Homo sapiens: one gene and its partners. The protein of the gene in region 6 purifies or fractionates together with the protein of the main gene of each other region. This does not show direct contact. Each region holds a gene or a part of one and is shown on either strand. Other genes may lie near its edges. The genes, in order: HSPA12A, PDCD4, FNDC3A, SLC39A11, FAM114A2, TMEM51 and CUEDC1.

Region 1 (2,937 bases), on a different chromosome or scaffold from region 6:
CAGATAAGCCTGGGTATCGTGTAGACCCTCACTGCCTGCTCTTCTCCATGCTATGCTCCTGCAGTGTGGATTTTGTGAAGTGGTCCTCGCAGGGGATGCTGCGGATGAGTCCAGATGCCATGAACGCCCTTTTTAAGCCGACCATCGATAGCATCATTGAGCATCTCCGTAAGTATCAGCCAGGCTCGGCCACTCGGCGAGGCAGAGCTGAGAAAGGGGATGGGCTTTCCCAGCATCACCAGCTGGTGCCTGTGGAGTCAGGTTGGCCTGGATCTGGGAGCCACAGGCAAGGGCCCTGCAGGACTGGGCAGGGCTTGGGCATGTATGGGAGAGGTTACTGGGCATAGGCTCTGGATCCCTCTCCTCGTACTGCAAAGCTGCTGAGAGCTTGTCTCACCCAAGCTTTCCGTTTGGCCTCAAAAGTCAGAGAGCTGGTAATGACAAAGAGGAAGAATTAAATAAACAAACAAAACTTTAAAACAACAAAAAAGATCAGAGAGCTGGAAGCTCTGAGGCAATGTTACCTGAGAGTGGCAGGCCCTAGGAAATGCATATTCTTTGCTTTACTGGGACATGTTAGACATCCTCACCCTGCTAGGGGAGAAGGAACTGTTGTGTGAATCAAAGGAAGTTCTGCAAGCAAATGGAATCTGGCTATGTCATTTTCCTGCTACATTGGTGGCAGTACCCAGGGACACATAGCAAACTCACCAGGACCTCTTTCAGTATCCTGTCCCCCGCCTACCAAATCAGACTCTCTAGGAGTGGAATGGGATTTTTATGAAAATCAGAGAATTCTATTTATAACAACCTGCCTTGACTTACCCAACAGAACCACAGGTTTGGAGAGCTTTAGGAGTATTCATTTATGCAAACCAAATTCTACTTAAAATTATCACCATGTATCTGTTAAAATGCATTTCTACTTAGCAGCAGCTCTGGCTTTTATTCCGGAACATATTGGTGTGCAAACTCCCTTTCTTTAAAAGACCAGTTCTGCAAAGATTCTGTTCAAGGAGCTCAGAGTAAGCCTGCCCTCCCAGTGGCCCAAGTGGCTTTATCCGTTCCCCACAGATGCAGGCAGCCCAGTTCCCCCTTCCTTGCTGGCTTTTGGTGACAGGACATTCTCCCTGCCTCTTCCCTTCCAGGGGACCTGTTTCAGAAGCCCGAGGTGTCCACCGTCAAGTTCCTCTTTCTGGTGGGCGGCTTTGCCGAGGCGCCCCTGCTGCAGCAGGCGGTGCAGGCTGCTTTTGGGGACCAGTGCCGGATCATCATCCCCCAGGACGTGGGCCTCACCATCCTCAAGGGTGCCGTCCTCTTTGGCCTGGACCCCGCGGTCATCAAGGTGCGCCGGTCGCCGCTCACCTACGGGGTAGGCGTGCTGAACCGCTACGTGGAGGGCAAGCACCCGCCTGAGAAGCTGCTGGTGAAGGATGGCACTCGGTGGTGCACCGACGTCTTTGACAAGTTCATCTCTGCCGACCAGTCTGTGGCTCTGGGTGAGCTGGTCAAGCGTAGCTACACCCCGGCCAAGCCCTCCCAGCTGGTCATTGTCATCAACATCTACAGCTCTGAGCACGACAACGTCAGCTTCATCACTGATCCCGGGGTGAAGAAGTGTGGCACGCTCCGCCTGGATCTCACAGGGACCAGTGGCACTGCGGTGCCCGCCCGGAGGGAGATCCAGACCCTTATGCAGTTCGGGGACACCGAGATCAAAGCCACAGCCATTGATATAGCCACTTCGAAGAGTGTCAAAGTTGGGATCGACTTCTTAAATTACTAACCCTCCCGCCCCGCTGCCTGTCCCCTTGGACTCAACTTATCTGCATCTGCTGACCTCAACCTTGACTGTTCTTTCCCTAACCTTGACCCTCACCATTGCCCATGTGAATTTCAGCAGGGAAGATGAGAACAATCAGGGCTAGAAATAATTAGTGACTTTTGAGGGCACACTGGAGTCAGAAAAACAGAAATTAAGATTAAGGTTTAGGCATAGAAAATTAAAGGATCCTGGAGGAGCAGCTAGTTTTCATAGGTACAAAAGTGGTGAAATGGCCACGGAGAAGGGAATCAGTACATTTCTGCAGCAGTGGTTGCGCTGCTTTGAACAGATCTCCGTTATGTAGAATTTAGGATGCCCTATTGCTGTCTTTCTAGATTTAAAATGAGATCTTTGAACCAGGAGGAGATCTTCATCTGAGACTTGTCTTTCTAAATTTTTTGGATGGCCATCAATATAAAATGCCACCCATCTGCAGTTAATTTCTTTTCCTCATCATGTGATTAAAAGTGGTGATTCAGTGGGAACTGGGAATGTTTTTAGCTGGTGGTAGAAGGCTGCCTACACTGGGCACTGTTTTAGATTCTCATATCATTTAAACAGCAAGGAGGTTCAGGGAAGAATAACCGTAGCCTTGGGTAATCCACTAGGGCTTTTGTGAGTAGGAGAGCTGATACCTCACATTCTTAGCAGGTGAAAACTTGCCATGATGGAAACAGATAGTGAAGAGTTACTGACGTATCCCAAATTATATGCTGTGACATAAATTCCCAGCATGCCCAGCCCTGATTTCTGAGTTCATAAGTAATTCTAGTGAACCTTAGTAGGAATTCTGGGTAAGAAAATGAGGTTGCCATTGGTCTTGTTTGCATCACCAAGACCAGACATCCAGAAGAGCCCCTCACCTTGAAAAGCAGACAGATTTTAAATTAACCCCCTCCTTCCCACTCACCTTCATCTCCCTAAGAGTTTTGGCCATTTAATTCCACATTTTGAAAGGAATACATTGGTGAAATTTGGGAAGAGAATCTGTGCTATGCAATGTTTCATTAAAATCTTCAGTTTTTCAAGTCTCTCTAAAAATAATTTGTAGATCTATACTTGATGTATTAAGTCAGTTTTTTTTCACAGCGGGCCTGTGGCTCGCCTGCATC
Region 2 (3,500 bases), on a different chromosome or scaffold from region 6:
GGCATTTTCACTAATTTGTGCATTTTATATCTCTGAAGAGCACACTGCTAGCAACCTGATTGTAAATGACCAGAAGGACTTATATCCAACCTATGTGACTTAAACATACACTTAAGTACTCTAAACCACTATTTAAAAAATACTTCTAGAGAGATTCTGAAATCTTAATTTGGTTGCACTTTCTGGTAATATATTTTTTGAAAACTATTTTGATATTTCTTTCATATAACATTATTGGATCTGTATCACTAAGTTAATTGTCTAAAAGGTAACTGATTTCATCAAACCTTCCAGTATTAATAATTTTTAAGCCATTTTGAAACTGAGGCCTAAAATACTGAAATGCTTATGTCGTTGTACTTACTCCTTTCTGAAATGATCAGATTTTTAAAAAATGGATTTCTCATATAAATAATATTATCAAAAAAGGATTTCTCATATAAATAATATTATCAAAAAAGCTGATTTTAAAAGTTTCTCCCAAAGTCTTATTCTAGTAATTATAGAGACCTAGGTAATGAGTGGCAGATATATCTGCCTTTCAGATATGCCGTAATGTGAAAAATAACACAGTCATGTGATATTCTTTATTAACTAAAACTGTGTTGTTTTTATTTTGGAGTAGTTCTCATAATTCATTGGTAGGGAACTATCCAGTATTTATATTCCTATGTATGTATATCAGATTAATTTTGAGGCTTGGTATTCCTAAAAGATTTGGATGTGTGTATTTCTTTAACTTGACGTAAACATGTATCACAAACATATCTTTTAATTCCAATTAAAGGGGTGCTTTGGCACATGCTGAAATCTGGGATTTTTTTTTTTGACTTTGATAAATTTATCAAAAAGATTGGAACCAAATGTTAATTAGGGTAAGTTGTCTTTGAAAGTAAAGTGAACTGTTTTATTTAATGGAATTGTGTGTTTTTTGTTGTTGTCGTTTGTTTTTACAGTGTGCTTAAGTAAGTTTAATTCAGCTTAATTACATCAGTTTAAAAGATCTTGAAGCTTTCTTTTTTTCTTTTAAAAAAACAGATTCTGAAGGAAGATTTCCATTAGGTAATTTGTTTAATCAGTGCAAGCGAAATTAAGGGAAAATGGATGTAGAAAATGAGCAGATACTGAATGTAAACCCTGCAGGTAAGTAAGGATATCCTTTTTTCTTTTTTTCTTCGTTTTGAGACAGGATCTTGCTCTGTCACCCAGGCTGGAGTGCAGTGGTGTGATCATGGCTCACTGCAGTTTTGACTTTCCTGGGCTTAAGAGATCCTCCCCTATCTCAGCCTCCTCAGCAGCTGGGACAACAGGTGTGTGCCACCACACCAGGCTAATTTTTTATTTTTTGTAGAGATAGGATTTCACTATGTTGCCTAGGCTGAAATATCTTGAAGCTTGACTATGTTGTGAGGAAGCTTCAGACCATTCCATATTTTATAAAAACATGATAGAAAAACTATCTTTAAATACTCTTTTATTCATGCTGTAAGAAAACAGGCTATATTATTTTTAAAGTCAAGTTTGTGATTTTTATTTTCATGGAAATTCATTACATGTCCTATTTTTCTGCCTATCCTTTCACATTCCACATATTCCTATTCTCTGTTATATAGTACAGAATAGAGAAGAATAGTGAGCCTGCTTATTTTCACATGGGCTAGTTAGTGATTTCTGTAATATAAACTTACTGGTATCTTTGGTATCTTTCCTAACAAATAATTTTTATATTCTAAATTACCTAGGGTATTTTCCCTAATTCTCCATGGTGCTTCAATAGCATGTTATTATCATAAAAATGAACAGTTTTGTGGAATAGATGACCAAATGTGAGTAACTCAAGATAATTTAAAATGTATTTATAGTTTTAAAAATAATCTCCCAAAAAGTTAATTAGAATTGTGTAATATCTGAATAGTGAGAACAGTTCATATTGGTATACTTTGGATAATTCTTTGTCTTATAATTTTATTAATATTGAAAGCTATTTTCTGTCATTTTAAGTGTATTTCGTAACTAAATACTACATCTTTCTTTCCTCAGTGACTTAACTCACTATTGTTTACAATGTACATAGTTTTCTTTGATCTGAACAAACATGTTGAATTTGAAGCTTCTTTACCATTGTTTATTTACAGATCTTTTTAAAGTATGGTAAAAAATTGAAAAAAATTTATGTAATTAATGATCATTTCTGTGCTGCTGTATACAATAGCTGTATGAGTATGCTTTAGGGTTATAAATGGATAATATGTACCTACTTAATTGAGATGGGGATGGTAATACAGTTTAGAATATATTTTACATATAGGTAATTGCTTCTTTTCTGCACTGTCCAGTATGGTGACCACTAGCTACATGTGGTTATTACTCCTGGGCTCAAGTGATCCTCCCTCTTCAGCCTCCTCAGTAGCTGGATTACAGGCGTGTGCACCACTGTGCTTAGCCACATGTGTTTGTTGAGTACTTGAAATGTGGCTACTCTGAGTTGAGATGAAGGTCAACTATCTCAATAATTTGTTATATTGCTTGCATGTTGAGATGATATGGTTATATTAGATTAAATAAAATATATTTAAATTAATTTCACCTGTTTTTACTTTTTAATGTGGCTACTGGAAAATTTAAAATTTCTTATATGGCTTGCATTCTATTTCTATTAGAAATAGAAACACAGCTTTAAAATGTGTACTTTTTGTTTCCTAACTACAATAAGACCTAGTTCTAACCCTGTTCTTGGTGCTTGTGTCCAGCACTGCTTTAAAATAAAAGACTTGTTCTTCAATATTTGAATAGGCCTAAGATAGACCCTCTTTGTAGTAAATTCTTCACATAGCAAATAGTCCAAGTCACACTCTTACTCTTTTACTTGGAGGAAGTAGGTTATTCTGACCTTCAGTTTTTTCATGTATAAAATTGGGATATAAATACCCTCTGTATAGATTTATAATTAGGATTTAGTGAGATATTGTATATGTGTGTTAAGTCTGTGAAGCACATACTAGGTATGTAATACATGAAAGTGTGGTAATGTTATTCTAATTATGCCACTCATTGGACACCAGTAATTGAAAATGTGATTTTCTGGTGCTGTGGTCATATACAATTGGAGTGGTTACTATTGAGATATCAGAATTCAGAAAGAGGGAATTAGTACACAGTAGGAAACAATTTTGAAGTCAATCACATTCTGTACTCAGCTTATCATTTTAATTTTGGTTTTCTTAAAGTCAGCTCAATAGGGGTTATGGAACTCCAACAGTTAGGTGAGTATGAGTAACAAAATATAAAGCAATTAATACAAACATGGGTTAAAAATGATAAGGTCAAATATATAAATTATACTGAGAGAATGTTTACTGCTGCAGAGACACAAACATACTTGAAAGGATGTTAAAATTGTTGAAGAAAAGAAAACTCGATTATGGGAAATAGATGTATTTAAATTGAATACTCCAAGGGACAGTTTAAGACATTTTATTATAGTTCTGACTCCTGTGTCT
Region 3 (3,500 bases), on a different chromosome or scaffold from region 6:
TCCCTTATTTGACTATCAACTCCCTAAGAACTGAATCTATTTTAATCACTATTGTTTCCCTGCACTTAGCATTGCCTGTCACTTATGCTCAGTACATTTGCAGAAGAAATAACTTCAAATACAAAATTGAAATTACACAACACAGCCTGTAAATAGTGGATATATTGTACACATCATATGTATTTGTCAAACTTATTTCTATTGCCCAAGTAATGCAAATTGGTTCAGTAGCTCTGGGTAGTGCTTGAGATTCTGCATTTCTAACAAGCCCCTAGGAGATGTTCATGCTGTGCTCCAAGGAACATACTTTTGAGTACCAAAAGTTTATACTGCAGATTAGTCTCATCCTATTTTTGTTTACTGCTAATTATGACTTAGTTTTAAAAATATTAATTTTTTCTTATAATCTGAGAAAACTATAAGAAAAAGCTAGTATTACAATTATTACTATTTTGCATTGTTAAAACCCCTTGTTATTCTGTAGGGATATGCATTAGAATACATGGATGTGATCTACATTGATATGAAGGAAAGTGAAGGGCACAAATCCACAAATTAGCTACCCAGTGGTAAAAGGGAGGAGTCATGTTGTACTTGAGGTTATAAGCCAGAGATTCTACCACTAAATGCTAATTATTGACAGTACTGGTTTTCTAACCAATGGCTATACCTCCGTGATGTCCTTTCCATGCACAATCCATATGGATTCTCAAAGTGGAATCTGATCCAGCATTTCACTGTTAGCAGTACCATTAGTGAGCCTGAACCTTGCTAGGCACTATGCTCACACATGTATTATCTCACTTAATTTTCAATAAAATTCTGCAAAATTCAAATGAGGAAACCGAGGCTCAGAAATGTTAAGTAATTTCTGCAAGGCCACACTGCTAGTTAATTGCTCAGAATTTTAACCCTCTCAGATCTATTCAATGATTAAGTTCCTTCTCTTTCTACTATAATATATTCTTTTTTCTCTTCCATGGTAGCTTTATTATTTTGAATAATAGATAAAGCATTTTAAAGTATGTACTAATTGATCTAATTGATTGCAGTTGCTATTTTTCTTAACTTTTTGTCGAGATATAATTTAGGTAACAGTTCATCATTTTACACTTCAGTGGTTTTTAATATATTTACTTTATTGTGCAACATATGCAACTCAATGTTTTCTATATTCAGTATGTACTGTATTAAGTACCACTGTCTAATTCCAGAACATTTCTATCATCCCAAAAAAGAAACTGTGCATATTAACAGTCAGTCCCAACTCTCTGTTCCTTCACATCCCATGATCTACTTTCTGTCTGTATGGGTTTGCCTATTCTAGACTTCATATAAATATACATATAAGTATTTCATATAAAAATTTCATTAAAATGTTCATACAGTATGTAGACTTTTGTGTCTAGTTTTTTTTCACTTAATGTCATGTTTTCAAAGTTCATGTTCTCACATATAATAGTACTTCGTTCCTTTTTATGGCTGCAATAATATTGCATTCTGTTGATTACATTTTATCACTCATTAGCTGATGGACCTTTGGGTTGTTTTCACTTTTTGTCTATGAACAATACTGCTGTGACCATTTGTGTAAAAGTTTTTGTGTTGACATATTTTCATTTCTTCCGGGTATGTGCCTCAGAGTGGAATTGCTGGGTCATATGTTAATTCTATATTACTTTTCCACAGTGACTACACCATTTTATATTCCTACCAGCAATGTATGAGGGTTCCAATTTCTTTGCCAAAACTTGATATCGTCTGTCTTTTGATTGTAGGCATCCTGAATAAATTTCTCTCTCATTATGGTTTTGATTTGCTTTTCCCTAATGCTACTAATGTTGATCATCTTTTCATGTGCTTATTGGCCATTTGTATATTTTCTTTTCCTTTTTTTTTTTTTTTTTTTTTTTGAGATGGAGTTTCACTCTTTTTTTTTTTTTTTTTTTTTTTTTGAGACAGAGTCTCGCTCTGTCGCCCAGGCTGGAGTGCAGTGGCATGATCTCGGCTCACTGCAACCTCTGCCCTCTGCCTCCCAGGTTCAAATGATTCTCCTGCCTCAGCCTCGCGAATAGCTGGGATTACAGGTGCGCGCCACCACGCCCGGCTAATTTTTTGTATTTTTAGTAGAGATGGGATTTCACCATCTTGGCCAGGCCGGTCTTGAACTCCTGACCTTGTGATCCACCTGCCTCACCCTCCCAAAGTGCTGGGATTACAGGCGTGAGCCACTGCGCCCAGCCCCATTCATATATTTTCTTTGGAGAAATGTCTATTTGAATTCTTCACCCATTTTTTAAATGGGTGGGATATTTGTCTTTTTATTGTTGAAAGGTAAGAGTATATATATTCTGGATACAAGTTCCTTATCAGATATATGATTTCCTCCCTTGTTGTTTTTTCACTTTCCTTGTGGTATCCTTTAGTGCAGAAAAGTTTTTAATTCTGATGAAATCTAATTTTTTCTTTGATTGCTTGTGTTTTTGGTGTCTCGTCTAAGAAACTATTGCCAAATCCAAGGTCATAGAGACGTGTTTTCTTCTAAGAGTTCTATAGTTTAATCTCTTACATTTGGGTCATTGATTCATTTGAATTAATTTTTGTATATGGTGTGAGGTAGAGGTCCACGTTCATTCTAATGTTATTGTACATATCCTTATAATACTCATTTCAAAAATACTGTACTAATTTTCTTAAGGCACTGCTAAATTAAAACTTTTTACTGAGGCTTTTAAAAAATATTTTTCTCATCACAAATTTTAAATTTAAAAAACTCTGGGGACAATTGAATTAATATTTATTGAGCATAATGACTTAATTATGTTCCTATGTGACTTTTATTAGAATGAGTGGATTCTTCTAAATCACAACCTTGAGTTTATAGTATCTGAAGATACATTATATGTAGATTGTTATTGTTAAACAGTCTAAATCATTTCTTTTGGCTAACTTTTTTTCAGTGATGATTGCTTTTTTGAGTTATAAGGGAATTTAGGCAGGCAGTGGTTTTCTTTTTACCTATTTTATGTGTTTAAGGTTCAAAAAGATGTGAAAAGTAATAGTTACTAAAGAGTAAAAGAAAAAGAACTGTGGACTGCTCAGCTCCAGTCTCATTCCTCACCTACAATAATCATAAGTTACCACCAAGCTGTTTCTATGGAGATTAATAATTAGTTGAGAACAGAAGGAAATAAATCTCTCTGTAAATTTACTTGAGAGAGAGATATATATAATTAGAATAAATCACAAAGCTTGGTTCTGATAGTTTATGGAGACACAAAGGTTGCTTTGTTATGCAAAATTCTTTTAAATATTTTATAAAAGTTTTATATGATAGATTTATTTTCTGTTCTTTTTTCATGGCATAAACTTATTTGGAGAAAGTGATCTTCTTAACATTTTGTTTTTATTGCCTCCTAGATGCTCACTCTACACATGGAAGGTCCAACTTTAGAGATGAACGATCTAGTAAAACATATGAACGTTTGCAGAAAAAATTG
Region 4 (3,500 bases), on a different chromosome or scaffold from region 6:
AAAAAACATTCATGGGCCAATGATTCAGAAATCTATAACTCTAGCTAGACTTTGCAAGCCAACTCCAAACTCATGTATCCAGCTGTCTAGTCAGTATCTCCATTTGAATGTCTAATGGCAATCAAACCTCACAATCAAAAAACAAATTCCTGATAGTCCCCCTAAAGCCCCTGGAGCTGCAGCCTTCCTCGTCTCAGTTGATGGCAATTCCATCCCTGCAGCTGGGCAGCCCTGAAACCTCCGGGTCCCTCCTGGCTCCTCGCTTTCTCTCATATCCCACATCCAATCCATCGGCAAATCCCATTGGCTCCACCTTCAATCGGGACCCAGGAAGGGATCCCTTCTCACCACATCCAGCACGACCACCTTGGTCTGCACCACTATCATCTTTGATCTGGATTCTGCAGTGGCCTCTACATAGGCCTCCCTGCTTCCATCCTTACCTCTCCTAAGTCCCATCTCAATTCAGTATCTAAAGAGAAACAAACTTTCAAAGCTCAAGTCAAGTCATACACACCCTCTTCAAAACTCTGCAATGGCTCATCACACACAGAGCAAAAACAAACATTCTTATGCCTCCAAGTTCCATCTAAAGGAGGGGCTGACATCCCTGCCCTCACCTTGTACTTCTCTCCCTGCTGCTCACCCTGCTGTGGCCACAGTGGACTCTTGGCTACTCCTTGTGGGGGCCAGACATGCTCCTGCCTCAGGGCCTTTGCACTGGCTGTTCCCTCTGCCTAAAACACTCACTGTTTCCCAGAGATCTGCATGACTGACTCAAATTCAAGGACATCTCAAGGAGCCCCTCCCTACCTACTCTATTTAAAATGGCAATTTCTTCCTCTAACACTCTACCGTCTCCTCTGCCCTGTTGAACTTTTTCTTTTTTTAAATCACTAACCACCTTCTAACACAATATAAAATTCATTTATTATGATGATGTTCATCGACTATCTCACCTTGCTATAATATTGGTTATAGAAGGCCAGAGATCTTGGTCTGTTTTAGTACTGATATAACCCAAGTACATGGAATACAATACTCAAATATAATAAATAAAAGACAAGACTGGGAAAGAAATGTCCCTTCAAACCTCTCCATCCAGTCAAGCCAGCTGTCCTCCAGTTTACTGAAACCAGTGACTATTACCACCATGCTTCTGGTGAAATCTAACTCAATTGAGATTCCTGGAAGGCACTCAATCCTCATTTCAATTTATTTTTTATTTTACTATTATTTTTGAGACGGAGTCTCGCTGTGTCACCCAGGATGGAGTGTGGAGATAAGAGAATCCATCTTTCAAACCAATGAATCTCTCTCTCTCTCTCTCTTTTTTTTTTTTTTTTTTTTTTTTTTTTTGAGACAGAGCCTTGCTTTGTCGCCCAGGCTGCAGTGCAGTAGCATGATCTTGGCTCACTGCAACCTCTGCCTCCTGGGTTCAAGTGATTCTCCTGCCTCAGCCTCCCAAGTAGCTGGGATTACAGGCATGTGCCACCACTCCCAGCTAATTTTTGTATTTTTAGTAGAGACGGGGTTTCGCCATGTTGGCCAGGCTGGTCTCAAACTCCTGACCTCAAGTGATCCGCCCACCTTGGCTTCCCAAAGTGCTGGGATTACAGGCATGAGCCACTGCACCTGGCCTCAATCCTTATTTGAAAAAATACTTTTGCATCACCATAGAAGTGACAAAGGCTGAACTTAGACTTGGAAACTCCAAAGACACAGAATAGGGTCTCCTGTCAGGGAAGAAGTAAGATTTTAATTTATGCTCATTTAAGATCATCAAATATTGCTGTCATTCCACACATCTTCCTCCTGTTTCTGGCTTTATTCCAAGTTGTCACTGGAGTCAACAAACATTTGAGAAAGTAAACTCTGAACCATCCTGGCCTTCCATTGGGATGAGCCAGGAAATAATTCCAGCTGAGCATAATGAATCACCCAAGTACAGTGGCAGGTGTGGTATATAAAAGGGTCCATTAGAGGAAAGTTGGATACTCATTCCATTGCTATAAAGTCTGGACCTTAGACCACATTTTTGTTCTTCAGAGAAATAGTTGCCGTAATACACCTCAGTGTAGTTACCTTATTTAACACTAAACCCACTGGGCAGATCTTTACTCTTCCTCAATTGGCTAAAGAAGGGGTCATAAATGGCAGAAAGACAGCTACTATTATGAATGAAAAACAAGTAACCTCTCTTCTCTAACTATTAGCACTTAACAGGCTACAAGTTGCTGTCAGGGCTCCTAAGTAGTCCTCTGCAGGGGACCAAGGGGTCTTTCAATGACCTCTTTAAGATACGGGGTGGGCACGAGCAGGGTCTTCCACCAAGGCTAACCCACTTTGGCCATCTTTGTGCAGTGAGGTCCATATAAGACCCCATCTTTATCTCAAGACATACTGAATACCAAGATCTAGAAAACCAACAGGGTCAGATGCTGTGGCTCATGCCCGTAATCCCAGCACTTTGAGAGGCTGAGGTGGGCTAATCACTTGAGGCCGGGAGTTTAAGACCAGCCTGGCCAACATGGTGAAACCCCGTCTCTTCGAAAAATACAAAAATTAGCTGGGCATGATGGCACACATCTTTAATCCCAGCTACTCGGGAGGCCGAGACAGGAGAATTGCTTGAACCGGGAAGTGGAGATTGAAGTGAGCTGAGACTGCACCACTGCACTCCAGCCTGGGCGACAGAGCGAGACTCTGTCTCATAAAAAAAAAAAAAAAAAAAATTGGAAAACCAACTAAAAAAAGCTTATTCATAACTCAAAGAAAAGGGTCAAGAGGGGAATGAGGGAGACACATAAACTGATGAAAATGTTGGGAAAACTGGCCTACCTATGATCGTATGATAGACATTCCTAAGATTAGGATAGAAATAACAGAGGAATGTGCTTCTTATCTAGAGAAATATCTGAGCTTAAAAAGTAATTAAACACATAGTGCTTTCGGCAGATTTAATATATACTAGAATATATAATATGTATTAGAATTTTCACACTTTAAAGACGACAAAAAAAAGTCTTCATTGTGCAAGCAAAACAATATCAAGTTATACAGAGGAACAGACTCACTTTGGCCATGCTTTTTGCTTCCACAATACTAAAGCCAGAAGACAAGGGATCAACATCTGCAGAAGCTTTGTAGAGAAAAATGTCATGACTAGAAAGCTTTGCCCAGCCAAGTTCTTGCTCCTGTATTAGAGTAACAGATTGGCACCATGAACTCTGCAAGGACTCAGAAAATGTATCACCCAAGGATGCTCCCTGGGGAAGATTATTGCTCAAACTCGAATTCCCAAACAACAAAAGGTGGGTCAGCATGTTTAAGATCTCAAGATCGAGGAAATCATGGCTGAAAAGGCAGCAGGAGTATCATCGATGCCAACAATGCGCTCGTAAGTCCCAAGCACTGTACTGAAAGCTGTATGTATATTTAGCATCTCATTTAATTCTCTAAGTAAGCCACTTGTGGCATTATCCCCATTTCTTAGATGA
Region 5 (4,263 bases), on a different chromosome or scaffold from region 6:
CTCTTCATACAGTTGCCAGAGGCCTTTATGACATGTTAACTAAGAGGCTTATTATTTTTAGAACTTTCTCATTTCTCAAATGCTTTTTAAGTCTTTTATGAAAAGAGATATCATGTGTTGTTAAGAAATAATAAAAGGGCCAGGCACAGTGGCTCACGCCTGTAATCCCAGCACTTTGGGAGGCCGAGGCAGGTGGCATCATCTGAGGTCAGAAGTTCCAGACCAGCCTGACCAACATGGAAAAACCCTGTCTCTACTAAAAATACAAAATTAGCCAGGTGTGGTGGCACACACCTGTAATCCCAGCTACTCGGGAGGCTGAGGCAGGACAATCACTTGAACCCAGGAGGCAGAGGTTGCGGTGAGCCGAGATCACGCCACTGCACTCCAGCCTGGGCAACAAGAGTGAAACTCCATCACACACACACACACACACACACACACACACAAAGAGATAATAAAACAGCTCAGTCTCTGACATTTGTGAAATATCACACTTGTTGAGTGCCCACTGTGGGTATAATTTTATTCTGGGTTTTCTAAACTGAAGAATTCAGGTTTAAAATTCAGAACACCTCTAGAAATACAGAAAAATGTCTATTTCTCAAATGGAGATATCAATAGCAACTACCTATAAAATAGCTCTCCCTCAAAAAGGTCTTTCACTAAAAACAAGTACAAAAGAAAGCATCCTTTTTCAGCAGTAGGAACCCACAAGATCTTGTTCTTTGATTACAGGATTGAAAAATTCACATTTGTACACCTAGCACTGATTTCAGATTCATAGTAATGCCATCTATAAAAATTACAATTTCACATTTCAGAGGCCTGCCAACCTGGATATCTATGCTTAAAAAAAAAAAAAAAAACTATCAAAAGCAAGTAAGGAAAATATAGCTTGTCCTTAACACATTTCTAAGGTATTATGCAAAGGAAAATAAAAATTGTTTCATAGAGGTTTCTACTTCTTTCAGATCAAATTAATAAAGTCTCTCTTAATCACAGCCTTTTAAAATCTCAATAGTAGGAAAAGACACATTTACCCTAGCAATACCTGAACATTTCACTTATTAAGGTTTTAAGTGAATTGGAAAGGCATATATTAGTAATTAGTGGTAAATCTTAGACACCAAAAATTTAAAAGGAAAATAGTACCAAAAGTGTAGCTGTTAACAAAAAACTAAAACACTGTAACTACCCCAAATAAAATAATGAAGCACATACTATCCAAAAACCATCACCATAATCCAGCAAGTTCCAAAGTGATCCCTGAATTTACCTACTCATCTGTCATGAATGTTTATGTTTCTCTATGTCTACTGGATCAAGGAATCTTAATTCTTTTTCAGTATATTTTATGTGAAGAGTAGACAATTGTTACTCAGAATTGGGCCTTTCATCATTTCACTAGTGGTCCCTAACTCCATTAAAATAAATAAATATATATGGGGGGGTGGGGAAGATGAGAAAAAAAGAGTTAGTGAGTCATATTTACCTTATGTGAGACCTAATCTAAAATTTGCCAAATTCAGGGCTGAAATCTGAATAGGTGTATAAAAAGAGTTGTTACTCTCTCCTTCATATGTATACCCCATTTCTTGAAAGAAAAACCTTAAATACATTTCTAGGTTAAGGATTTAAAGCTGCCAAACTGCCATTGTACAAGAGGCTGAACAGACAGTAGGCAGAGTGACCAGTTTCTAAACTTTGCCCTCAAGGGATACAGGTTCAGACACATCAACCAAGCTTGAGGCAACAATTCAGAACTGGTGACACCAGCCTTTGTAACCAGAAGGCAACTGTTTTTCTGAAACTTCAGAAATATTCAAGCTGGAAAGGGTGAAATTTGTCTTTAAAAAGGAATATTCAAAAACTTTCTGATCATATTAAGACAGAATATAGGCAGAGTAACATTGTAGTGCTGTTGGTATACCTTTTTAAACCAAATTTATTTCTCTTCCTTGCTTACTAACTGACTCCTGCCCCAAAGAAGATTACGTAGAAACAGTCTTTATACTAATCTATGTTATGGCTTTGCTTTGCTATTTTTTTTTTTTTTTTTTGGTCTAAGTAAGATATTAGGGCTCGTGTTTACAAAAGTAAATGAAAGGATCAAATAACATGATTAATACATTTTATTACAAAGGTTTTAGAAGATGAGGGGCAGAGCTAACAAATTACCTTAATCATTAAAAAACCACAAAGTTGGAGAATTTTTTTAAAAAGAGTGGATACCAAAATAGCTTTTAGGAAGACGACAGCTTAATAGTCTCTTAAATTGCTGAAGAGAGCAAAAGAAAGCTTAAGATCTGGAGGATAAAAGTTATATCAAAAACATGCTAAAGAATACATTAAAACAAACAAAAAGGAAAGAGGAAAAAATAAACTATGCCTTAGAAGTTAAATCCTATCATAAATGAACATCATTTCTAAAGGACTATGGCCCACTTCAACACTCAAACAAAAAAATCCTCATTGCTAAAACAGCTTCAACATTCCTTTGGAGTTTGCTGTTAAAGAATTTATCCTGCATATATGGTAGACACGAAACACATCCTGAAGAGACTCAGAATATCTGCAAACATAAAACTGCTTCTCTAAATTGCATTTACTGGCCTTGAATCCAGTAGAGTAGGGTTCAGCTATGACATGAAGTGTGTCATCCTGGGGAGGGGGAGCAATTTGAAGAAAAAGGGCACTTTGCTACAGTTAATTCACATGGCTATAATAGTCTACAAGTTTCTCCTCAATGCCAAATATCTACTAAGAATTTAAAAAAGCAGATGAAACTTTCTATTTCCAAGAATTCATGTGATAAAGGGTAATCATCACAGAGTTTACATATGCTCAGTTTTCTTAAAGCCATAGATTTTATTCCAGAAAGGAGAAAGTACATGGCATTAATAAACCACACATGCCATGAATTTTAGAACACTAAATTATTTTTCTCTGGCTTATCAACCAGTTATATCCATGGGCTGCAAATTATATCCATGACAAAATTGATAACATTTTGCAACATGTCAAAGAAAGACCAACATTTTTGCCTGAGTGTCCCACTAATCTTTATCTAGAGTTATTATTCTTGGACTTTCTACAAAAGTTTCTTTTCAAATAATTTATGAATTACAACAACTGGAAAGAATACTGTGAGAACCTGAATACTTCAATCAAACACTGAAGGCAACAATCTTCCTCTTTAAACCATCTCTCCTGCCTGAATTTTTATATACTAAAATAACCCCACTCCTTCATTTCTGCAGGAGTAGCCAGAATAAGGTGGCATTCCTTGGCCGTCACAAGTCCCAGGTCAAAACGTCTCCATTCTTCAATGTTCTAACAAAGGTTTCTGGCCCTGCAGCTCATGTCTGTGTGATTCAATCTTGTTCTCAATGAGAGAGATCTCTAGCACAGGTAAGAGTAGCTGAAAGGCGTCCTGGATGTAGGAGGCACTGTTTGATGCCTGCCAGGATTGAAAAAACAAGAAAAAGAAAATATTAGTTATTTAAAAGAGAAGATATACTGTAAGGCAACAGGGGAACAGATTAATTTTTGTAATCTAACTGAATTCATAGCCTGGCAAGTAAGAGCAGTGACTTGGCCATTTTGGTAAACTCTATTATAGGGAGAAGAATTTAGCTCTTAAGATGATATGAGCACCAAAAGAGAATGTCAGCATTTTGTACAACTTGCCCATCAGACATGGTAGCTTTTCTTTGGCAACATGGTCAGACTTGGCATTCAAAGCTTATTTATTCCTTTATTGAGTAGGGTAGATTCTGTCACAATATTGTGGTCAATTACTGAAAGAGGCTTTCAGAAGGCTATAAATCCTACACCTATAGAATTTCTAGCCCATTATGATAGCTCTTTTTCCATGGACTCAATGCGATCAGTGAGCACAATAACTGCTCACACACATAAACATCTTTCACACATATACTGCTTTCAAAGATGACAGTATAGATATATTTCTATCTTGAACAACATTTTTCAGAAGTGTTAGAGAATCATTACCCTCAGTTTGCTGGACTTCATTTATACTGAAAAGCCCTCACCTTTCAAAAGAATATCAACAGAGAGCTCATTAAGATAAAAATGTATAATTTCGAAGACAAGAGTGTTTCAAATCTGTATCCAAAAAAAAAATCCACTAAAAATAATAGGGAGCCCATATCAAGTGATATTACCTTTTTAAAATTTATCAATGGCAAGTACTATTTAAAATTCAGTGTGACATTTAATACTCAATTTCCCACACAA
Region 6 (3,500 bases):
TTTGGTGAGGGAAAATGACTTTATTTTATTTTATTTATTTCTTTTGAGACAGAGTGTCACTCTGTTGCCCAGGCTGGAGTGCAGTGGTGCAATCTTGGCTCACTGCAACCTCTGCCTCCTGGATTCAAGCAATTCTCTTGCCTCAGCCTCCTGAGTAGCTGGGATTACAGGTGCATGCCACCACGCCCGGCCAATTTTTGTATTTTTAATAGAGATAGGGTTTCACCATGTTGGCCAAGCTGGTCTTGAACTCCTGACCTCAAGTGATCCACCTGCCTCAGCCTCTCAAAGTGCTAGGATTACAGGCGTGAGCCACCACACCCAGCAAGAACATGATTTTAAAAAACAAAACAAACACTCAAACTTTCTTAAGTTACCATAAGAGGCCTCACATACAGCTTCCTTAAAACTGCCTGCAATTTGGAGAGAAGCAGTTAGGTACTGGAACTGCCTGTGGGTAATTATTGTTTTCAAACAGTGACAGATGCAAATTCTCTTCTTTTGGGGGAAATTGCCTGTAGCTAAACACCGGCGCCATCACTTTAAACAAATCTCCTGATACATATGGTATGCCAGGCGCTGAGCCCAGGAACGAGGGAGAGTCAGCCCCCGCCCCCCACCCCGATGGAGCTGATCCCCCACGGGAGGCAGCAGGGATTGTACCTTAACAACATGTGAATAAAGATGAGGAAGCACAGCCCGTGAAGGAGGAGGCTTAACCCAAACTTGGAGAGTCAGGAAGGATTTTCAGAAAGAGTGCAGTCTGAGCTGAAATGGGGAGCGGGGAGGGCAGGTGCAGCCGCCACCGCCAAAGGTCTTCCTGGTGGAGGCAACTGCCTGTGCAAAGGCCTCAAGGTGTAAAAGAGCTTCGTTAACACAGGCCAATACTGAGTGTAGAAACGCTGCACTCAGGGCAGATGCTGAAGGCAGAGGTGGAAAAAGTATTTTATATAGTTTCTTCTTAAAAGTCATTTTGGGGGCTGGGCATGGTGGCTCATACCTGTAATCCCAGCACTTTGGGAGGCCAAAGCAGGTGGATTGCTTGAGGTCAGGAGTTCACGACTAGCCTGGCCAACATGGTGAAACCCCATCTCTACTAAAAATAGAAAAATTACCCGGTATGGTGGCAGGTGCCTGTAATCCCAGCTACTCAGGAGGCTGACCACAGGAATCGCTTGAACCTGGAAAGCAGAGGTTGCAGTGAGCCGAGATCGTGCCACTGAACTCCAGCCTGGGCAACAGAGTGAGACTCATCTCAAAAAAACAAAAGTCATTTTTCTCAAAAAATTAAAATCGAATAACCATAGGATCCAGCAGTTTCACTTCTGGGTGCATACTTGTCTTAGTCCATTTGTGTTGCTGTAAAGAAATACCTGAGATTGGGTAATTTATAAAGAAAAGAGATTTATTGGCCGGGCGCAGTGGCTCACGCCGGTAATCCCAGCACTTTGGGAAACCGAGGCAGGCAGATCACGAGATCGAGACCATCCTGGCCAACATGGTGAAACCCAGTCTTTACTAAAAATACAAAAATTAGCCAGGCATGGTGGCGGGCACCTGTAGTCCCAGCTACTCAGGAGGCTGAGGCAGAAGAATGGCTTGAACCCGGGAGGCGGAGGTTGCAGTGAGCCGAGATGGAGCCACTGCACTCCAGCCTAGCGACAGAGCAAGACTCCATCTCAAAAAAAGAGAGAAAGAGGTTTATTTAGCCCATGGCATCTCAGATGCATCAGCATCTGCTTCTAGTGAGGGCCTCGGGCAGAAGGACAGCAGGCGTCATGTGGTGAGAGAGAAGAGGAGAGAAGGAGTGGGGAGCAGACTCTTTAACAACCAGATCTTTGGGCACCAAGCCATTCAAGAGGGATCCACTCCCAACAACCAAACACCCACTAGGCCCCACCTCCAACATTGGGGATCAAATTTCTCTTCTTTTTTTGAGACAGTCTTACTCTGTTGCCCAGACTGGAGTGCAGTGGCACAATCTTGGCTCACTGCAAACTCTGCCTCCTGGGTTCATGCGATTCTCATGCCTCAGCTTCCCAAGTAGCTGGGATTACAGGCATGTGCCACCATGTCCAGCTAATTTTTGTATTTTTAGTAGAGATGGGGTTTCACCATGTTGGCCAAGCTGGTCTTGAACTCCTGGCCTCGAGTGATCCACATGCCTCGGCCTCCCAAATTGCTGGGATTACAGGCATGGCCACCGCATCCAGCCTGGGGATCAAATTTCAACATGAGATTTGGAGAGGACCAATATCCAAACTATATCAATGCTCAAAAGAATTGAAAACAGGTTTTTGAAGAGATATTTGTACACCCATGTTTATATGAGCATTACTCATAATAGCTAAAATATGAAAACAACCCAAGTATCCATCAAAGGATGAATGAATAAACAAAATGTGGTCTATCCATACAGTGGAATATTATTCAGCCTCCATGTGGAAGGAAATTCTGACACCATGCTGCAACATGGACGAACCTTGAGGACATCATGCTAAGTGAAATAAGCCAGTCACAAAAAGACAGATACTATATGATTCTACTTGTATGAGGAATCTAGACATCATAGAAATGGAAAGTAGAATGTTGGTTGCCAGGGGCTGGGGGAAGAGGAATGGGGAGTTAGGGTTTAATGGGTAAGGGGTTTCAGTTTTGTAAAATGAAAGCGTTCTGTGAATGCATGATGGTGATGGTTGCACAGCAGTATGAATGTACTTAATGCCACTGAACTGTTCATGGAAAAATGGTTAAGATAGTCAACTTTATGTTATGTGCATTTTATCACACTAAAAAGTTGGTGGGTGGGGGAGTCATTTTGGAAACAAGACTCAGATAGTCATTTGGCCATATCATTGCGTTCTCTCTACAGACCAGGTGTTCTTCCAGGCTTTGGGGGGAAACGGTGCCTAAGACAGGCTCAGTTCCTGCCCTCTTGGAGCTTACACCTTATTAGGCAGCAGGGAGGAGTCAGTCAAGTAGGAAACCAACAAGTAAAATAACAAATCAATAACATGTCAAATGCACTGATCTGAAATCTTTGCCCCTTCCCTATGCTGGCAGGATCAAGCCAAAGCTAAGCTCTTTAACTTTCAACACTATAAAGCCCGGACTTCTTAGAGTCAGCCTCTGTTAATCTTTTCAGACCTATTACTGCTGCCTTACCCCAACTTCAACTGCATCAGTCACAAGGAACTACTTTCCACCCCCACCTACCTCGTACCCCTGCTCAAAGCCAGGAACTTTGGCGGCTTTTTTCCTTCCTGTTCTTTCTGCTTTTCTTTCTAGACTGCCCAGAGGCTTTAGAAAACACCATAATTTCAATTCTAGAAGTTTATCCTAAGAAAACAGTTAATGAGTATAAGGAGTTAGTTTCGAGACTGTTATTTTTTGTAATAATAGCAACAAAATTAGAAAGCCATTTTGTTTTTAATCTGTCCAGAGATGGTCCTAGCCACGACCCTTTAAATAAATTTTTGTTTAATTTTGGAATAATTTTA
Region 7 (3,500 bases), on a different chromosome or scaffold from region 6:
GCTAATTTGTTTTTGTATTTTTAGTAGAGATGGATTTTTGCCATGTGGCCAGGCTGGTTTCGAACATCTGACCCCAGGTGACCTGCCCGCCTGGACCTCCCAAAGTGCTAGGATTACAGGTGTGAGCCACCGTACCTGCACCTCATCATTTATTTCTGTCCTAGGACTTCCAGCTTGTCCCCTTCCAGCTCCTTCTGCAAGTTGACATCCTCCTCCTCCTCCCCTTAAACACCAAGGGTCCTTGAGTCTTCCCTGCCATCCTCCTTCATCCACTGCAGGCTGACAGCCCCTCCCATCACTCGGATTGACTCGGAGGTCACCCAGCAGCTCAGGGCCTTAGCATCTTCTGCATTCTTATGGTGCTCTTCCACACGCACTCCCCTGATCTCTCCTGAAGCTGCCCTCCCTTGGCTCCTGTGACCCCAGGAAGCCAGGTTCTCCTTCCTCTCTCCTGGCTCCTGTTGCTCCGCCCACTCCCTAAATACTGGCTCTCCTTGTTGCTCTGCCCTTGACCCTCTTCGAAGTCTTCTCACTGCCCACTCTGGCAGTGCCTCCGCCCTCTTTTATAGCACCAGCAACACTTCTGCGCATCTGGCTCCTACATCTGAATCTCCATCGCAGTTAGGCTTCCAGAGCTGCTTCGTGTCCCCAGCTGCACCCAAGATTTTCTTTTCAGCCTTGGATAGCAACTCAGTCTCTCCTCCTGACTGCCCCCTTTCATTCTCTTTTCTATTCCTTCCATTACCACCCTGATAGATGCTCATCACCTAGGTCACAGCCCTGTTCTCTTCACTGCCCCTACCTACTCTGATTATCCCACCACCAAAACACCACTTTAGTTCCATTTTTCCTGTGCTCTTTGAATGAATCTTTTTTTTTCTTTTTCTTTTCTTTCTTTTTTTTTTTTTTTTTGAGATGGAGTCTCGCTCTGTTGCCCAGGCTAGAGTGCAGTGGTGCAATCTCCACTCACTGCAACCTCCCCTTCTCAAGTTCAAGCCATTCTCCTGCCTCAGCCTCCCGAGTAGCTGGGATTACAGGCACGTGCCACCCCGCCCGGCTAATTTTTGTATTTTTAGTAGAGACGGGGTTTCACCATGCTGGTTAGGCTGGTCTTAAACCCCTGACCTCGGCCCGCCTCAGCCTCCCAAAGTGCTGAGATTACAGGCGTGAGCCACTGCGCCTGGCCTGAATGAGTCTTCTGAGTAAAGTCTTAGGAACTCTTCAGCCTGGTGTCTGAGTCCTACCAAGTTCTGCCCCCAGTTTACTTTTCTCCACCTACAGGTCTTTGTGGCCTAGCTCCCCTGAGCTATGACGTATTAGAATGGGCCAGGTACCCTCCCACGTTGAAGCCCTCCCCTACAGCTGCTTCACCCCGGGATTCCATTCCTTCACTCCATCTCCTGCTGCCAGAGTCCCTGCAGCTGGGCAAGCTGGAATGGTTCTAGGAATTTGAATGGGGGGATGACCCAGGCAGAGTTCTACGGTTGACCTCGAGTCCCTGGAAAAAGGAGAGGGCTTACGTCTTTAGTAACTTCTCCCAAAACTGTCTCTCCAGGAACCAGTGACCAGGAAAGACCATTGGGCTCCTTTGAAAAAGATTCCTCCCATCCCTTTTTTCCCCTACCAGATGCCAGCAGCTCTTCCTTGCCAGAGATGATCTGACCCGGTGGGGGCAGCTGGAAAGCAACACTGGCCCCCAGCTGAAGGGCCCAGCTGCAGCCAGACAGATGGTGCTTGAGAACCGAGGCCCGGTGATCCTCCAGCCACAGTCCAGCCCAACCACTGCCACTTTCCATGGGACTTAGAACTTCGGAGTTGCTGCCTTGCAATTGGAGGAAGGACCTGGGGCCCCTATAGGCAGCAGCCAATTACAGCCCCTTTTGTAGCCAGGCGTTCCTATGGTCAAAGAGTGGAAATGCAGGAACCAACCTCCCTTTAAAAAAAAAAAAATCCAGAAAGCAGATAAAAGTTGGAATATGGAAAAGGGCAAGATGACCCCCACCAGAGGCTCTTTGGCCTGAAGGTGGAGTCTCTGCCTCCGTCCGTTCTCTATCTCTCCTGTCACAGACTCTGCCTGACCCCCTTTCCTCAGCTCCCTTCTGGTCCCCCTTCCTCAGCTCCCTCCGGGCACTTGTGCCCTTCCCTTCCATGTCCTCCTGTATCTCAGCCTTCCCCCGGGGCTGCTGGCCCAGCACACGAGCCCTGCACCCAGCCTGGGTGGGAGGTCCCTGGCCAGTCCCCCAGGAACTCTGAGGAGCTATGGGCTACTGCAAAGCATCTGCCGACTGCCCTGCCCCGTCTGGCCTCATCAGGCTGCTGCTGTTAGGGATGGGCTCACTCCCAGCAGCTCCCGGTCACCCAGCAGGGATGGGGAGGGTGGCCACCCTGGAGCTGGAGGACTCTGGGGAGGCAGGGTCTTTAATTTGGCAGCAGACAAAAGCCAGTTCTGGAGTCACACCACAGTAGGGGCTCACAGGGGCTCTGACTCCCCAGCTGGACTGGAAGCCCTGCTGTCCGAGGGTGGGCAGCGGTGGGTCCTGGAGTGACCCCTTTGAGCAGGTGCAGGGCTAAAGAGCAAGGCGGAAAGGCCGCCAGCCTGGGTGAGCGCCTAGGGCATAAGGGCTTGCTGGGTGCCCCTGAGAAGGGCGGGTGATCTGAGGAGGAGAACTCTGATTCTAGGAACGCTTACACGGCACTGACCACTGCCACGGGGAGGGAGGCTGCCCAGCCCGTGGCCCCGCCCTGGACATGGGAGCGCGCAGACCTTCCGGAGAGCCGGGAAGCCTGGGCAGGCACGAGGCTTCGGCGCGGCTCTGGGAGGTTGGGAGTGGCATCCGATCCTTGGCCGGGCCCTGGTGGCCTCCGTGGCCCCAAGATCACAAGGGCGTAGCGAAGGCGAGCCGGCGATCGCACCTCGTCCCGCCCACCCTGCCCGGACTCGCAACGCCGAGCTTGGGGAGGGCCGGGACGCGCAGCCGCCGCCGAGCGTGACCAAGTTTGGAAACGCGCGCGGGGCCGGGACGCTGGCTCGGGGGGCCCTGCCGAGGAGCGGTCGCCCCCTCCGCTGCTCCCCGCGCCAGGCCTGGGGCCCTGGAGGGAGGGGGGGGGGTCTCCGAGGAGTGCCTCGGTACCCCAGCTCGAGTTCTCGACGGGTCTCTGAGCCTTCCCCGCGCCAGGACCCGGCGCACTGTGGGGGAAGCCCCAGCCCCATGTCTGTTGAGTGTTGCTTTGTTATTTTTTTTCCTCCTATGTGTGGGTTTTTTCTTGGAGCTGTTTCATAGGAATTCCTGTAATAAACAGTTGGTGTTCTCTTGGTGCTCTGATGTGGCCAGCGGCGTGGGCTGGACCCTCCTGCTCCCTCCTCCCTCCCGGCCTGGGGCAGGGTTTGTCCCCAGGAGCCCCGCGTCGCATCCCTAGGGTACCCCTGCCTTGCCTGGCCCATTCACCCGCGGCGCTCTCCGACTGCACTCTCGAGGTGACACCTGCGGCACCGCTGCACC

Evidence for each region.
Region 1: the proteins of TMEM51 (region 6) and HSPA12A purify together in Homo sapiens (affinity purification with mass spectrometry; 3 studies listed by BioGRID and IntAct, with this or other methods). This does not show direct contact.
Region 2: the proteins of TMEM51 (region 6) and PDCD4 purify together in Homo sapiens (affinity purification with mass spectrometry; 3 studies listed by BioGRID and IntAct, with this or other methods). This does not show direct contact.
Region 3: the proteins of TMEM51 (region 6) and FNDC3A purify together in Homo sapiens (affinity purification with mass spectrometry; 3 studies listed by BioGRID and IntAct, with this or other methods). This does not show direct contact.
Region 4: the proteins of TMEM51 (region 6) and SLC39A11 purify together in Homo sapiens (affinity purification with mass spectrometry; 3 studies listed by BioGRID and IntAct, with this or other methods). This does not show direct contact.
Region 5: the proteins of TMEM51 (region 6) and FAM114A2 purify together in Homo sapiens (affinity purification with mass spectrometry; 3 studies listed by BioGRID and IntAct, with this or other methods). This does not show direct contact.
Region 7: the proteins of TMEM51 (region 6) and CUEDC1 purify together in Homo sapiens (affinity purification with mass spectrometry; 3 studies listed by BioGRID and IntAct, with this or other methods). This does not show direct contact.

Annotation. Positions count from the first base shown.
Region 1 is NC_000010.11:116,673,630-116,676,566, reverse strand, and holds part of HSPA12A (heat shock 70 kDa protein 12A), read left to right. Parts: intron 1-64; coding exon 65-168; intron 169-1,148; coding exon 1,149-1,786; 3' UTR 1,787-2,937. UniProt on the Homo sapiens protein: Adapter protein for SORL1, but not SORT1. Delays SORL1 internalization and affects SORL1 subcellular localization.
Region 2 is NC_000010.11:110,874,928-110,878,427, forward strand, and holds part of PDCD4 (programmed cell death protein 4), read left to right. Parts: intron 1-1,038; 5' UTR 1,039-1,100; coding exon 1,101-1,143; intron 1,144-1,742; exon of another isoform or gene 1,743-1,816; coding exon of another isoform or gene 1,817-1,826; intron 1,827-3,500. UniProt on the Homo sapiens protein: Inhibits translation initiation and cap-dependent translation. May excert its function by hindering the interaction between EIF4A1 and EIF4G. Inhibits the helicase activity of EIF4A. Modulates the activation of JUN kinase.
Region 3 is NC_000013.11:49,132,912-49,136,411, forward strand, and holds part of FNDC3A (fibronectin type-III domain-containing protein 3A), read left to right. Parts: intron 1-3,420; coding exon 3,421-3,500. UniProt on the Homo sapiens protein: Mediates spermatid-Sertoli adhesion during spermatogenesis.
Region 4 is NC_000017.11:72,844,689-72,848,188, forward strand, and holds part of SLC39A11 (zinc transporter ZIP11), read right to left. Parts: intron 1-3,500. UniProt on the Homo sapiens protein: Zinc importer that regulates cytosolic zinc concentrations either via zinc influx from the extracellular compartment or efflux from intracellular organelles such as Golgi apparatus. May transport copper ions as well.
Region 5 is NC_000005.10:153,989,648-153,993,910, forward strand, and holds the end of FAM114A2 (protein FAM114A2), read right to left. Parts: intron 3,464-4,263; coding exon 3,329-3,463; 3' UTR 501-3,328; downstream 1-500.
Region 6 is NC_000001.11:15,160,247-15,163,746, forward strand, and holds part of TMEM51 (transmembrane protein 51), read left to right. Parts: intron 1-3,500.
Region 7 is NC_000017.11:57,861,413-57,864,912, reverse strand, and holds part of CUEDC1 (CUE domain-containing protein 1), read left to right. Parts: intron 1-1,627; 3' UTR 1,628-3,500.